Regions from separate parts of the Homo sapiens genome. Here region 2 is reported to be linked to region 1. The links are microRNA targets in miRTarBase. Many come from high-throughput screens and were not tested one by one. Region 1 holds a microRNA gene; the other region holds the end of a gene's coding sequence.
What was found. The annotated mature microRNA hsa-miR-302f reads UAAUUGCUUCCAUGUUU and lies in region 1 at 3,400-3,416, shown strand. An mRNA with a match to its seed (bases 2 to 7 or 8) in the 3' UTR can be bound and repressed. Matches are read on the target gene's strand: a 7mer-m8 pairs with bases 2 to 8, a 7mer-A1 pairs with bases 2 to 7 and ends in A, and an 8mer does both.

Region 1 (7,366 bases):
GTGTGTGATGTTCCTCTCCCAGTGTCCATGTGTTCTCTTTGTTCAACTCCCACTTATGAGTGAGAACACGAAGTGTTTGGTTTCCTGTTCTTGTATTAGTTTGCTGAGAATGATAGCTTTCCACTTCATCCATGTCCCTATAATGGACATTAACTCATCCTTTTTATGGCTGCATAGTATTCCATGGTATATATGTGCCACATTTTCCTTATCCAGTCTATTATTGATGGGCATTTGGGTTAGTTTCAAGTCTTTGCTATTGTAAACAGTGCTGCAATAAACATATGTGTGCATGTGTCTTTAGAGTAGAATGATTTATAATCCTTTGGGTATATACCCAGTAATGGCATTGCTGGGTCAAATGGTATTTCTGGTTCTAGATCCTTGAAGAATTGCCACACTATTTTCCACAATGGTTAAACTAATTTACACTTTCACCAACAGTGTAAAAGTATTCCCATTTTTCCACATCCTCTCCAGCATTTGTTGTTTCCTGACTTTTTAATGATCACCATTCTAACTGCCATGAGATGGTATCTCATTGTGGTTTTGATTTGCATTTTTCTAATGGTGAGTGATGATGAGCCTTTTTTCTTATGTTAGCTGGCCACATAAATATCTTCTTCTGAGAAGTGTATGTTCATATCCTTCACCCACTTTATGATGGGGTTGTTTGTTTTGTTTTGTAAATGTGTTTAAGTTCTTTGTAGATTCTGGATATTAACCCTTTGTCAGATGGATAGCTTGCAAAATTTTTCTCCCATTCTGTAGGTTGCCTGTTCACTCTGATTTGATAGTTTTTTGTTGTTGTTGTTTTGTTTGTTTGTTTTTTTGCTGTGCAGAGGCTCTTTAGTTTAATAAGATCCCATTTGTCAATTTTGGCTTTTGTTGTCATGCTTTTGGTGTTTTAGTCATGAAGTCGTTGCCCATGCCTATGTCCTGAATGGTATTACGTAGGTTTACTTCCAGAGTTTTAATTGTTTTAGGTCTTACATTTAAGACTTTAATCCATCTTGAGTTAATTTTTATATAAGGTGTAAGGAAGGGATCCAGTTTTAGTTTTCTGCGTATGACTAGCCAGTTTTCCCAACACCATTTTAGTAAATAGGGAGTCCTTTCCCTATTGCTTGTTTTTGTTAGGTGTGTCAAAGACCACATGGTTGCAGATGTGTGGCGTTATTTCTGAGGCATCTGTTCTGTTCCATTGGTCTATGTATCTGTTTTGGTGCCAGTACCATGCTGTTTCGGTTACTGTAGCCTTGTAGTAGAGTTTGAAGTCAGGTAGCGTGATGACTTCAGCTTTGTTCTTTTTGCTTAGGATTACCTTGGCTCTACGGGCTCTTTTCTGGTTCCATATGAAATTTAAAGTAGTTTTTTCTAATTCTGTGAAGAAAGTCAGTGGTAACTTGATGGGGATAACATTGAATCTATAAATTACTTTGTGTAGTATGGCCATTTTCATGATATTGATTTTCCCTATCCATGAGCATGGAATGTTTATCCCTTTGTTTGTGTCCTCTCTTATTTCCTTGAGCAGTGGTTTGCAGTTGTCCTTGAATAGTTCCTTCACGTCCCTTGTAAATTGTATTCCTAGGTATTTTATTCTCTTTGTAGCAATTGTGAATGAGTCCCCTCATGGTTTGGCTCTCTGTTTGTCTATAATTAGTGTATAAGAATGCTTGTGATTTTTGCACATTGATTTTGAATCCTGAGACTTTGCTGAAGTTGCTTATGGAGGTTTTGGGCTGAGATAATGGAGTATTCTAAATACACAATAATGTCATCTGCAAACAGAGACAATTTGACTTCCTCTTTTCCTATTTGAATACCCTTTATTTCTTTCTCTTTACTGATTGTCCTGGCCAGAACTTCCAATACTATCTTGAATACGAATGGTGAGAGAGGGCATCCTTGTCTTGTGCCAGTTTTGAAAGCCCATTTTGCCCATTCAGTATGATATTGGCTGTGGGTTTGTCATAAATAGTTGTTATTATTTTGGGATATGTTCCATCAATGCCTAGTTTTTTGAGAGGTTTTAGCATGATGGGGTGTTGAATTTTATCGAAGGCCTTTTCTGCATCTATTGAGATAACCATTTGGTTTTTGTCATTGGTTCTGTTTATGTGATGGATTACATTTATTGATTTGCATATGTTGAACCAGCCTTGAATCCCACGGATAAAGCCTACTTGATTATGGTGGATAAGCTTTTTGATATGCTGGTGGATTTGGTTTGCCAGTATTTTATTGAGGATTTTTGCATCAATGTTCATCAGGGACATTGGCATGAATTTTTCATTTTTTTGTCTGCCAGGTTTTCATATCAAGATAATACTGGCTTCTAAATTCCCACAGGAGAAAGTGGGAAAGATCTAAAATCGACACTCTAACATCGCAATTAAAAGAACTAGAGAAGCAAGAGCAAACAAATTCAAAAGCTAGCAGAAGACAACAAATAACTAAGATTGGAGCTGAACTGAAGGAGATGGAGACATGAAAAACCCTTAAAAAAATCAATGAATCCAGGAGCTGTTTTTTTTTTAAAGATTAACAAACTAGATAGACCACTAGCCAGACCAATGAAGAAGAAAAGAGAGAATAATCAAATAGACACAATAAAAAATGATAAAGGGCATATCACCACTGATCCCACAGAAATACACACTACCATCAGAGAATACTGTAAACACTTCTATGCAAATAAACTAGAAAATCTATAAGAAATGGACACATTCCTGAACACATAAACCCTTCCAAGACTAAACCAGGAAGAAGTCAAATCCCTGAATAGACTAATAACAAGTTCTGTAATTGAGGCAGTAATTAATAGCCTACCAACCAAAAAAGCCCAGCACCAGAAGGATTCACAGCCAAATTCTACCAGAGGTACAAAGAGGAGCTGGTACCATTCCTTCTGAATCTATTTCAAACAATAGAAAAAGAGGGGATCCTCCCTAACTCATTTTATGAGGCCAGCATTATCCTGATATCAAAACCTGGCAGAGACACATTTGGTTCTTTTAAGCAATAGATTAGCCTCAGTTTTAGTATGGTACCTCTCTCAGAATCAAAAGACTGGACCATCATAAAAATCACACTCTCCCTTAACTCACTATTTTTAAGATTAATCACATTCACATGTATTTTTTTGACTATTTCTAAGGGAGACTGTGTTTTATTCACTGCTGTACTGCAAATGTTTTCTTTCCCTTCCCATGAATATTTCTGGAAATCTCCTGTGTTTATTTACTTAATTTGCTTTGTTTTATAGTTTACAAAAGGGCCATTGTAATATGGTATGAAGTTTGTATTCTTCAATAAAACTTAAATCACTAGTTATTCTCTAATACTATAATTGTCAATGATAATGTCTTCTGTGTAAACCTGGCAATTTTCACTTAATTGCTTCCATGTTTATAAAAGACATAAAAGATGATTAACATCTGGTCTACTGTGGAACAGGCCTTGGAAATTACTTAAATAACTTTCCGTTGATACCTTGGGCCATAATCACTAATGGCTTATATAACTTGCAAATGATTCAAATCATTTTATTCCACAAATATTTAGCAAAATAGTAGCAAAAATATGACTTGGCTTAAAACCGTCACTTATTTATTGAGGGCATTGCATAACTTAAGCTAATTATGATTGTTAGTTTTAGATAAATGCATTAGTAGGCTTCCCTTTGGCTCTTGAAATGAATGTTTCTCAAATCAACTTGCCATAGAAAACTTTAAATGATCCTATTTTAAAATACCAGATACAAAATATACTTTAATCAGATGCAAAGGTCATTTCTATTTTCTCTAGATTTATCTTATTTATACTGAAAGATGGAATGGTATGATGTAACATGGCCACCAATCATCAATGAGATAAAATTTAACTCAAAAACATTCACTTAATTTTAGAGGCATTTGTGAAAATACTGTAACAGTGAACTTTTGAAATTTAAAGGAATGATTCTAATTAAATCAGTGACTTTGCCACGTATCAGAAACACCTAGTTAAAGTTGCACTTTTTGCGTTGATAGGATGCTCAGCTATTAGGTGTCACAGTATTAATGCTAAAAGCTGATCTGAAGCAGGGAGATTAGGGATTGCCAAAGTGGTATAAATCAGTTAAGAGTGTTGCCTGCAGGTCGTATTTGTTTCTTTTTATTTTATATTACTTTTCTGTACAGTCAAAGGATAAGTAATTTTTGTTGATGTGAAAATACATTGTTTATTCCTAGTAGCCCCACTATATTTTATTTAATAGCCTTAAAAATTTTCGAAATCACTGCCTTACTTTGTTCCTACCAAAGAAAATGTAATTTAATAAACCAACTTTTGTTATATTTAAAGCATATAATGATGATTGTTCTAAGGGGAGTTGCATTTTAACTGTTGACGCCAAGGCCAAGATAATTATTTGCCTTAAATAATAACTACAATGGAAGAATTATAGGCATATTTAAAATAGAAAAGGTGTTTAATAATTGTGATTTTAAACATTTAAAAATTAGAAAAAGCATTTGGAAGAAAATTAAATATTCCTATAATTTCGTTAACCAGAGATATACCCTGGTGTTATTTTGGAATATTTTCTTGTATTTATATACTGATGATTCTTGAGCATACATAATTTTACTTTTTGTTATTTTATTGAGAAAAGAGTGAAAATTAATACATAAATGTTTTCCTTCTGTTAAGGGTTCCTGTCTAAGACTCCCTAAGCACTGATAGACTGCCACTAAACACTCATCCACCAGGAGGAATAGAAATTTTGAAGCAATTAAACCTTTAAGTTTCAAATTTCTGCCCAAGATATAAGACAGTGTATTAATCCCTCTTTTCCCGCAATATCTTCATCTTAACTTCTCTTTGCTTCCCCTTCCACAACCTTAACCTTCAATGCTCTCGAACCTTCAAAATCATTCCTTTGCATTGTGTTCTCTGTAACAACAGCAACAAAAACAGCAGCTCTGGCATCTTTCAGTTCTGAACAAGAGGTCGTAAATGGTAGGTGTTTCTTGCCTAGAACAATGCAACCTTGAAGGATTCAGAAATGCAAGTTGTATATTCTCTGGGTTGGGAATTGAGATGAAGAGTTTGCTAAATCTCAAATGCCACTTTTACTATCTTATGTTCCAGTGTGGCTCAGGCTTTCTGGATATTTATGAATTGGTGCCACTAAATATCCAGGTCTCCATTCTTACTGGGCCCTAAATTCTGCTCAGCAATCCATCTTCATTTTCCTGCACATTCTTCTGTCAGAAAGAAAATATTTCATTATTTTTCTACTTTCCTCAAACCTTAGATTTCATTTTCTCTCCTCTTGTGCTCATAAGATACCTTACTTCCATCCTTAGACAGTACCAAATAGAAATAACTTTTATGTTTTGATGTGAAACGTAGGAACTTAACATAAACAAAGTCTTTCTCCCTTCTCTCTTTTCTTAACCAGTGGAAAATGTTGGCTCTGTTTGCATTCAGATTTCCTTCACTTCCACTATTGTATACAGTATTGATTATTGTGTATGCTGTTGATTATTATCCTTTCTTCCTTTCTATTGGTGTGTTCTCATGACCTTCAAATACCTTCAAGTTATTTTTTAATTGAAAAAATATTGCTTTATTGTAATGTTTCTGTTACCATGTTCCCCATTTCTCTGTTAAAACAAGCACCACTGTCTCCATATCTTTACTTCACTAATTTCCTATTAATGCTTCAACTTGAAACAATCTGACTTCTGCCTGTAGTATTCCACTGAAACATCCGTAAGTTATCCAGTAACTTTCCTATTGAGGAGTCCCGTCATTTATTCTTAGCTTACTTGACTTCTCCATACTTTTTGGCACTTTTTTTTTTCTTGAATCCATCTGCTTGTCCTCTCTTACTCTGCAAACTCCTGACATTTTTTTTCTGTCCCTATAGTCACTACTTCTCAGATATTCTGTATGGATATCTTCTTATTTAACATATTTTCCAAGAACACATCTTCCACTAATTTTTTTCCTCAATACTCTTTGTCCCTCGGTGATATGCTAAGACTAACCAATATCAGCTAACATGCCAGATCTCCTAGAGACTCATACTCTTCCATGAGAATGGACAGGAGCTGAAGTCTACAACAGGAGCTAGATGTCTCAGAGGCTCTTCAAACTCAGCCTCTTTACAACTGGATTCCCTGTCTCTTACATAAAACCAATTTTTCTTTCTATGCTGCCTACTTAATCCTGAAAATTATTCTTGACTCCAGCACAACGAGTCAAGAAATCTTGTAGAGTCTAATTCTAACATGGCATGGCTGCATTCACTTGTCTCCACCTCTGTAGCTACTAGTATGGTTCAAGTATACGTTTTTTTCTTCCCTATACCAACAATCTGCTAACTCATAACTTTTGCCATCAGTCTTGCTTTCTTCCAAGCCATCTACCACACTCTAATAAGCCTGATACTTCAAAAACACTAATCTACTTGCCTGAGTAGCAAACTTAAATCCTTTCAAAAAATTTTACTCGCTCATAGAATAAATTCCTTAACATGCATGATCATGCTTTGTCTTACCTCTCCAACTTCATTTCTCACAAGCTCTTTTTGCACACAGAAACACAATGTGTGTACACACACACACACACCATAGATTTCCTTCAAATATTACTGAATTCCAATTTCCACTTAATCCTTGTTTAACTGGTGTCATCATTCTATTTACCTGTAGGATTTTGCATAATCTGTTCTCTCATATCAATACTATTCTCTACTTTAACCCCTCCCTTTCTAACTGTTGGTCATCATTCTTATCTGTGTCAGTCAGAACTAAAATATGTTGCAATAAATCTTAAAGTCCTATAGCAACAACAATTTATTTAGGTGATTTATATACAAACTATTTAAGACATCACTGTCACTCACTTTCAATGACTCAAGCAAGACATACAGCTATTTCTAAACTCAAGGGAGAGTAAGGATTGGAGTGAGGAAGTACAATACTACCAAATACAAAGAAGGAAGATAATTAGATTATTTGTGAAAAGTATCCAAAAAGAAAACACAGAAAACTTATGAGCAGTCCTAAGGATATGCATATAGTTTCAACTTCAATAGCATTTCATCAGAAAGTTGCCAACATAACCCCCCAGCAGGTCCTAGATAGGTGCCTGTCTGAGTACTTCCATATTAAAAGTTCTTCATCATGTAATTTATGGAAATGCATTGTATGCATTGTAGTTTTGTAGTTTTGAAAAATTGTTTTAGAGACAAGATCCCACTCTGTTATTCAGGCTGGAAAGCAGTGGAACAATCATAGCTTACTGTTGCCTCAAACTCCTCAGCTCAAGCAATTTACCCACCGCAACCTCCCCAAATAGCTGTGAC
Region 2 (7,316 bases), not on the chromosome of region 1:
GATAGGTCAAATTTCAGGCTTGTAAAATGTATACAGCTAGGTGAATAAAAATAAAAGTCACTAGTGTTAAGCAAAGCAAAGAATTCTCTGATAGAATACATTCAAGAAAAGCTCTGTACAATAACTCCCTGTTAGAGGGTCACAGTGCACATTACCATAAAGGGATTTGGGAAGTCTAACCAAAGAAAACCTTGTTTAATCCAAAATGCTCGAGAGCCATGTTCTTTCTGCCTCTTGTCCACATAGTTTACATAATCAGCTTCATCAATAAAACTTCATCAATAAAACCACAGTACATCACATGAAGTTAAAATATAGTTTTATAAAATTTTTACTTTATGTGATTCTACATGTTTAGATTATAAGGCATTTCTTACTGTGGGTCAGTAAAAAAAAAATTTGTTGCTTTTGGAGGCTGAGGTGGGAGGATCGCTTGAGGCCTGGAGACCAGCCTGGACAACACAGCAGTAACTATAAAAAACATATAAAAAAAATCTGAAAGCCACTCAGAGGAAAGGAAATTTAGTACAGGTTGAGCATTCCAAATTTCAAGATCAGAAATCCAAAACCTGAAAGTGTTTGAGTGGCAACATCTGATGCTCAAATGATCATTGGAGCATTTTGGATTTCAAATTCTCAGTGGGATGTTCAACCGGCAAATATATGCATAATATATTTAAAAATCTGAAAAAAATCTGCAATTTGAAATACTTCTTTTTGATCCCAAGCATTTCAGATAAAGGATACTCAACTTGTATCTTCAGTTTGTTTTCGCCACCCCACCACAATATTCTTTTCTGAAAGATCAATAGGAAAACATGATAAATCAAAGTGAAAATAATGTTAAAAGCAAACATTCCATGAGATGCAGAATTCAAACATACCATACAATAGCATCTTCATGCCATTCAACATTTTGGTTGAATAATGTTGCCCATATTGCTATTTGTATATACTTTATAACATAATCTTGAGTTCTAGGTAAAAAGAGTTATATAGTTTTCAAATTAACCAGTACTCATTTATCAGTTAAGAAGGTATATTAAGCAAAAGTCTATCAGATTTGTAGCATCTAATTTTGCCATGGTTTTTCAAGATGGTCTGTTAGAAGAAAATGACTATATTCGTACTTGGAGGATAGGTATGTCGTGGCAAATGTGTGATGCTTTCAAATAGATTTATATTCTTCCTTTAAGGGTAAGTATTACAGAGAAACAGCATTCTGCAGTGTTTCTTAATGTTAGATGCCCTTTCGCTTTGTAGAGAGAGTATTGGTGGTGATGTATTTGTATCTATGTATACAAAATTAAGGGATTATTATGCATTAATAACAGACTGATAAGGAAATAGAATGTTATATTTACATATTGCTACAGGTCATAAAGCATGTTAAGTATGGCAAATTTGATTGTAATGATGTACTTCTTTTTTTAAAAACTACAGATGGGTGACGAACAATGACAGTTTTGCACCAGAGGACCCATGCTTCTTTTGTGATGTTTGCTTCCGAATGCTGCACTATGATTCAGAAGGCAACAAACTGGGGGAATTCCTTGCTTATCCTTATGTTGATCCTGGAACCTTTAATTAAGAATAGCTACACTCACAAAAATACCCCCTCATGAAATAACTGTTCTCTTGGATGGTTACCTTATTTCTAAGAAACGCCACTGAGGAACAGGATCCACTTTGAACAGTCCGCTAAAGCTATCAAAAAAAAGTCCAAATGACAGATTTTCTTATAATGATAGTATTTAAATGTTTATAACATAGTTTAATTTTATATTTATTCCAGATAGTATTTAATTTAGTGCTTTTTACCCATTTTGAGTTGAGTTGTAGTACTTTATATATTCTGACTTTAAATCCTTTGTCAGACACACATATTCTTTCTCCCAATCCATGCCTTCCCTATTCATTCTCTGTCCAGAGTTTTTTGCTAAAGATAGAATTATTAATGATACATCAAGTAGTGGAAGTGTTTTGAAAATTCTTTGAAGAATGTGAGAGCTACACCTTCTACCATGAGGCTTCCAAGGTAAAGATCCTTCAAATAACTGTAATGGAAACTAGGGAGAATGAATTATTTACAAATAAGACAAAATTAATAGCTTTGGGATTATTTATTTTTTGAGACAAAATCTCGCTCTTGTTGCCCAGGCTGGAATACAGTGGCGCAATCTCAGCTCACTGCAGCCTCCGCCTCCCGGATTCAAGTGATTCTCCTGCCACAGCCTCCTGAGTAGCTGGGATTGCAGGCACCTGGCACCATGCCTGGCTAATTTTTGTATTTTTAGTAGAGACGGGGTTTCACCATGTTGGCCAGGCTGGTCTCAAACTCCTAACCTCAGGCGATCCACCCGCCTAAGCCTCCCAAAATTTTGGGATCACAGGCGTGAGCCACCGCGCCCGGCTGCTTTGGGGGAATTTAATCTTAGTGTGCTGTTTAGTAATGTTAGGTTTTGTTTTGGAGGAAACTAGGCATACAAGACATGTTAATAAGACTATGTGAATAATGAATTTAAAAAGATCTTGAGTATATACTCATAACTCCAGAAATAACATTAACTTGAAGCTTTATTTCTTGACAAAAGCTTTATGAATGTTATGAGTTTAAAATATGTCAATTTAATACTATGATTTAAAAAACAATAGCAGATTTCGTATGACTGTGGGGACATGGAAAAATCAAGATCCTATTGATTGCTAGCTCTGGCTCACTTATTCTCCGGTAATGATACTATTGGATATATACCAAAATTATATAAGCAAAAAGAAAAAAAATAAGTTTTCCTGGCCCAGGTCTTCCATTCTTCTGGTCCCCTTACTATAGTAATTCTAGTTACTCTCATCTTATTCTGAGGAAAAAAAAAAAAACCAAAACTTTTTAAACTTATTTTTTGACATAGGGTCTTACTGTGTCACCCAGGCTGGAGTACAGTGGCGTGATCTTGGCTCACTGGAGCCCTGACCTCCCTAGGCTCAGGTGATCCTCCCACCTCAGCCTACCGAGTAGCTGAGACATGGTGGCACAGGCCACCATGGCGGGCTAATTTTTTTATTTCTTGTAGATACAGGGTTTCACTATGTTGCGCAGAATAGTCTCGAACTCCTGACCTCAAGTGATCCATCCGCCTTGGCCTCCCAGAGTGCTGCGATTACAGGCATGAACCACAGCGCCCAGCAAAATAAACTTTCTTTATTTTCAGGTCTAGACCATCAGATAGATTTATTCAAATATTTTCTGGGAACCTTTATGGGTAGAACATTTAATACTGTTTAGAAGACTTTTAGGAATACTATAGATTTCAAATGCATCATTTAAAATAAATAAATTCCACTTTCTCTCTCCTAGGTTGTATTTAAATTTGACTGAATATCTGGATGGCTAAGAACAGACATTTATCTTACACATGGAAAACTGACGAAACCTATAAGCCTATGTGTTTGACAGTGAAGTATGTTTTATGGACTTAAATGCCACAAACAGTTAAGTCCATTGGCTTGGAGATGACAAGCACGAGTTTCTGGTATGTCTAGTGTTCTCATTCACTGATTCAGTCAGTACACAGATAATCAGTATAGAGAACTTAAGAGGCTGGCTTATGTTATACCTAAATTTTTACTTTCTTGTATACAACAATGCTAAAATTGAGCAGATTGATAACTGCCAGCAAACCATAGATTTAAGATAAATGAATGATTTACCCAACCCTAAAATTCCATGGGTAAAAATTTTGATTCCTTTATTTTCAATACTGCGTTCCTTATAGGTCTTACATGCATATGCAAGGATATTTTATCTTATTCATTCATTTCATACTCTCAAAACACCAAACTTCAAAAAGTTAATTATTGTCATAATGCATTATTCCATGTGTGGTGTCAATACATTTTAGCGGACAAAGAAGAAACATGCCAGTTAAAACATTTCTGCTACTGGGATTCTTTATTAATTATTTGAGAATGTTATTTTGCTAGTTCTTAAGGTTAAGTTTTTCATCAAAGACTCAGGTACCTATTATTGTTCCCTGGTGAAACTGAGGAGAAAAGTTAATCAACCAGGTTACTCCCACAGTTTGCCCGTGTGTTATGTATCAGTTATACAGGTATCCCACCAAGTTCAAGTCAAAAGAAATTCCTAACTTTGTATATTTCTGGAGCTATAAAACCCCTGATTTAAGACAGCTTTTCTCTTTTTTCGAGGCAGCTTTTCTTTATGCTTATTTCAATCAAATGTAACACGCCTGTCAAATTACATGTAACACATTAGCTAATGAAGATAGGCAACTGAAAATGTTGTCATGAACATGTCAACCTGCTTGGTAGTTGAATTTGACTTTTATATAATAGTGGATACACATGCACAGAAGTTACTAGAGAAGCAATAGCTATTTCTTTAAACATTCTTCAGGCATCAGTACCATTTAAGGACAATTAGACATTCTAGTTTTACTAGGAGAAAGGTCAGTCATCTCTAACATTGTGTTGCAGAATTACACGACACAAACATAAACACATTTCTGCCTATTAAACCAGTTTCTTTGTTTCTAAAGAGTTTAATGATACAGGTTTGCTATTTCCATTAGAGCATCCTTTTTCTGGCCAATCGGACAAAATAGAGTTAGCAAAGCCCTCACAGCACCCTATGAAAAATCTCTGCTCTTATACAGGATTAGATGCAGACCTCATCTTGACCTAACATCTGTAACCAGGTAAGTGTATGAGTAGGAACACAGACAGCAGTACTGTATCAGCAAAATCTATCATATTATTTGAAATCACTGGATATAATATTAATTATAAAGTGTATGGTTCTCTCCAGTTGTTCACATACCAAATCCCAGTCAGTTCTCAGATTCAGATAGATGTATCTGCAATTTCTCCAAGCAGCTAAGAAAACCTTCAATGGTCAGTTCTGCTTGGTCATGGTATGACTCTTTTTTTTTTTTTTTTTTTTTTTTTTTGAGATGGAGTCTTGCTCTGTCTCCCAGGCTGGAGTGCAGTGGGGCAATCTCAGCTCACTGCAACCTCTGCCTCCCGGGTTCAAGCAATTCTCCTGCCTCAGCCTCCCGAGGAGCTGGGATTACAGGCACGTGCCACTGCGCCCGGCTGATGTATGACTCTTTTATCCAGTAATCAAAACACATACGTACATACACACACATACCAGCCCAAAAGAGGTGTTAAAACATACATATTACACGTACTTTTTGGAGGGGTGGGGTGGGGTGGGGTGGGGTGGGGTGGGGGTTATCTATCTCAAAATTACCTTTTGGTGCCTTGTCAAGCTGTGGAGTTTTGACCACACACACAAATTGAGCCAATGAACAATTTCAATGATCCTGAAAGTTCTTAAGTCTTATGAATAATTATCAAGAGTTCTGAGAAGTTATCTGTAAATCAGCCTATGACACCATTTCTTGAGAGTTATGATTAAAGAAACAGCAATTATGCTTGAAGCGAACATACATCAACTAGTTAGAGCAAGGTCAGCCTGTACAAGCTGACATAAATTATGAGAATGATGCTCTATCTCTAGAATTGGAATATTCTGTGGCTTCTTTGTAAAACTATAGATCTGGTGGGTCATGGGAAGAAAGGGAGGGTGAACAAAAGATAAATATTACCTTTATTTTTTATCATCTTGAGCTTACTGTTTAGTTACCCCGTTTCCCAAAACAGCACAACCTCTGTGACCAGTTAACTAAGAAATTATTTCCTTGGCAGCAAACCCAGAATTCCATCACTTACTCTTGTAAATAGCAAGAAAGTAATTTACTAGCAGAGTTTGATAGAAAAATTCTTTAATGAAAACAAGTTTACACGTTGAACTTATGGCTTAACTAGAATAAATCTAAGTAAGTTAAAACTGTATAAGGACCAAACAGATAATGACTGGTATATATGCAGGTTCTCTCAAAACGGTGATTCCTAGTTCCATTATAAGACCTCTTTAAAAGCAAAAATGCAATTCTGTAGATGAAAACAGTTATCTCAGAGGGTCAACCACACAATGTCATACAGAGACGCTGGTCTTAAGCCATTTTTTTCCATATTCATATAATTTCAAAACATGAGAAGTATCCTACTTGCTGAGAAGTGCCAAATGACCCTAATATTCAAAATATCTTAGAAATGCTATCCTTTAGTTAACATACCCTTAAATTTTGTAACATTGATTTTACCCTGGATTTAGTCCATACACGTCAATGTACAGACTTATCAAAGTACAATGCTGGAACAACTAGTGTTTGTATTTTTGGAATCTAGAAAATAAAAACAATATAGCCATGATTTCAAATAGGTGAGTTTCCTTATATAACATTTATTCATATTTATTGTATAAGCATCATGATTTTTTCTTCCAATTAAGTTTTAGTGACTTCCTAAAGACATTTTTAACAACATTCCTCAAAAATAAACTTACTTAGTTTTCAGTTTTAGTTACTAGTGCCTGCCTATAAAAGGACCTTAAATGATTTAACCCTAAAGCCAGATTCATTCCTATATATACCCAGTCAGTTGTCTGCAAAGAAGTCCTAAGACTTCACTGAATGCCCAGCCACAAAACTAAATTACCTTCAAAAATTAATGTTTTATAGTTTGTAGAATTCTCAGTTCCATGTCAGTTGCTTAATTAGTTGTCATACCAAAAAAAACCATACAGAGCACACATTGTTCCAAAGAAGCTGGATAATGTAGCACAATGTAGACTGTGAGATTAAAATTAACTTTTGATAAAAAGGGAGTGAGTACTTGTATAGAAGTAACATTTTATCTACCATAAAAATGTGTAACTTCTACAAAACCCACAAACAGTGAAAAGACAGTCTGGTAAATCCAAGGTTTGTAAAAACTATGCACAAAACCCACAGTATTTGGGAAAAGAGGCAAGGTTTATACAAGTAGCAGTTTTAAAAATGTAACTTTGTTCTACTATCAATTACACATTAACATACACACACTAATTGAAAATATGCTACAACCATGTCTGGAAAAGCAGTTTAACATTTTCTAAATGGATTTTATCCCACATTTACTGTATAATGTAGCTGTTAATACTGCACAAGTACACTTAGCGATAATGTTTACTTTACTTTAAAACAAAGGGATTTTCTCCCTCAAAACAAGTTTTCAACATCAAACCTATGCTTATAAAAATTTAAAACTTTCAGCAGTCTATTTCAAATGAAAACCATTACAAACTTCTCAAGTGTTCTCTATATTCCAGGTATGTCAACCTAGTTATCTAGTGTAGAATCCTTCAGAGATATTTCAGTCTCTCTCTCTTCACTGGATGGCCTGAAGAAAAG

Region 2: the mRNA of SNAPC3 is a reported target of hsa-miR-302f. The part of its 3' UTR that is shown has no 7-base or 8-base seed match.

Annotation. Positions count from the first base shown.
Region 1 is chr18:30,295,537-30,302,902 of GRCh38, forward strand. MIR302F (microRNA 302f) reads left to right here and starts at 3,374; the gene lies at 3,374-3,424.
Region 2 is chr9:15,458,276-15,465,591 of GRCh38, forward strand. SNAPC3 (small nuclear RNA activating complex polypeptide 3) reads left to right here. Exons shown (of 9, transcript NM_001039697.2): 9 at 1,444-3,351. The coding sequence ends at 1,591. It overlaps PSIP1 (PC4 and SRSF1 interacting protein 1), which reads right to left. Exons shown (of 16, transcript NM_033222.5): 16 at 5,791-7,305. The coding sequence ends at 7,245. Among named protein-coding and RNA genes, the nearest start is that of SNAPC3, 39 kb to the left of the region's middle.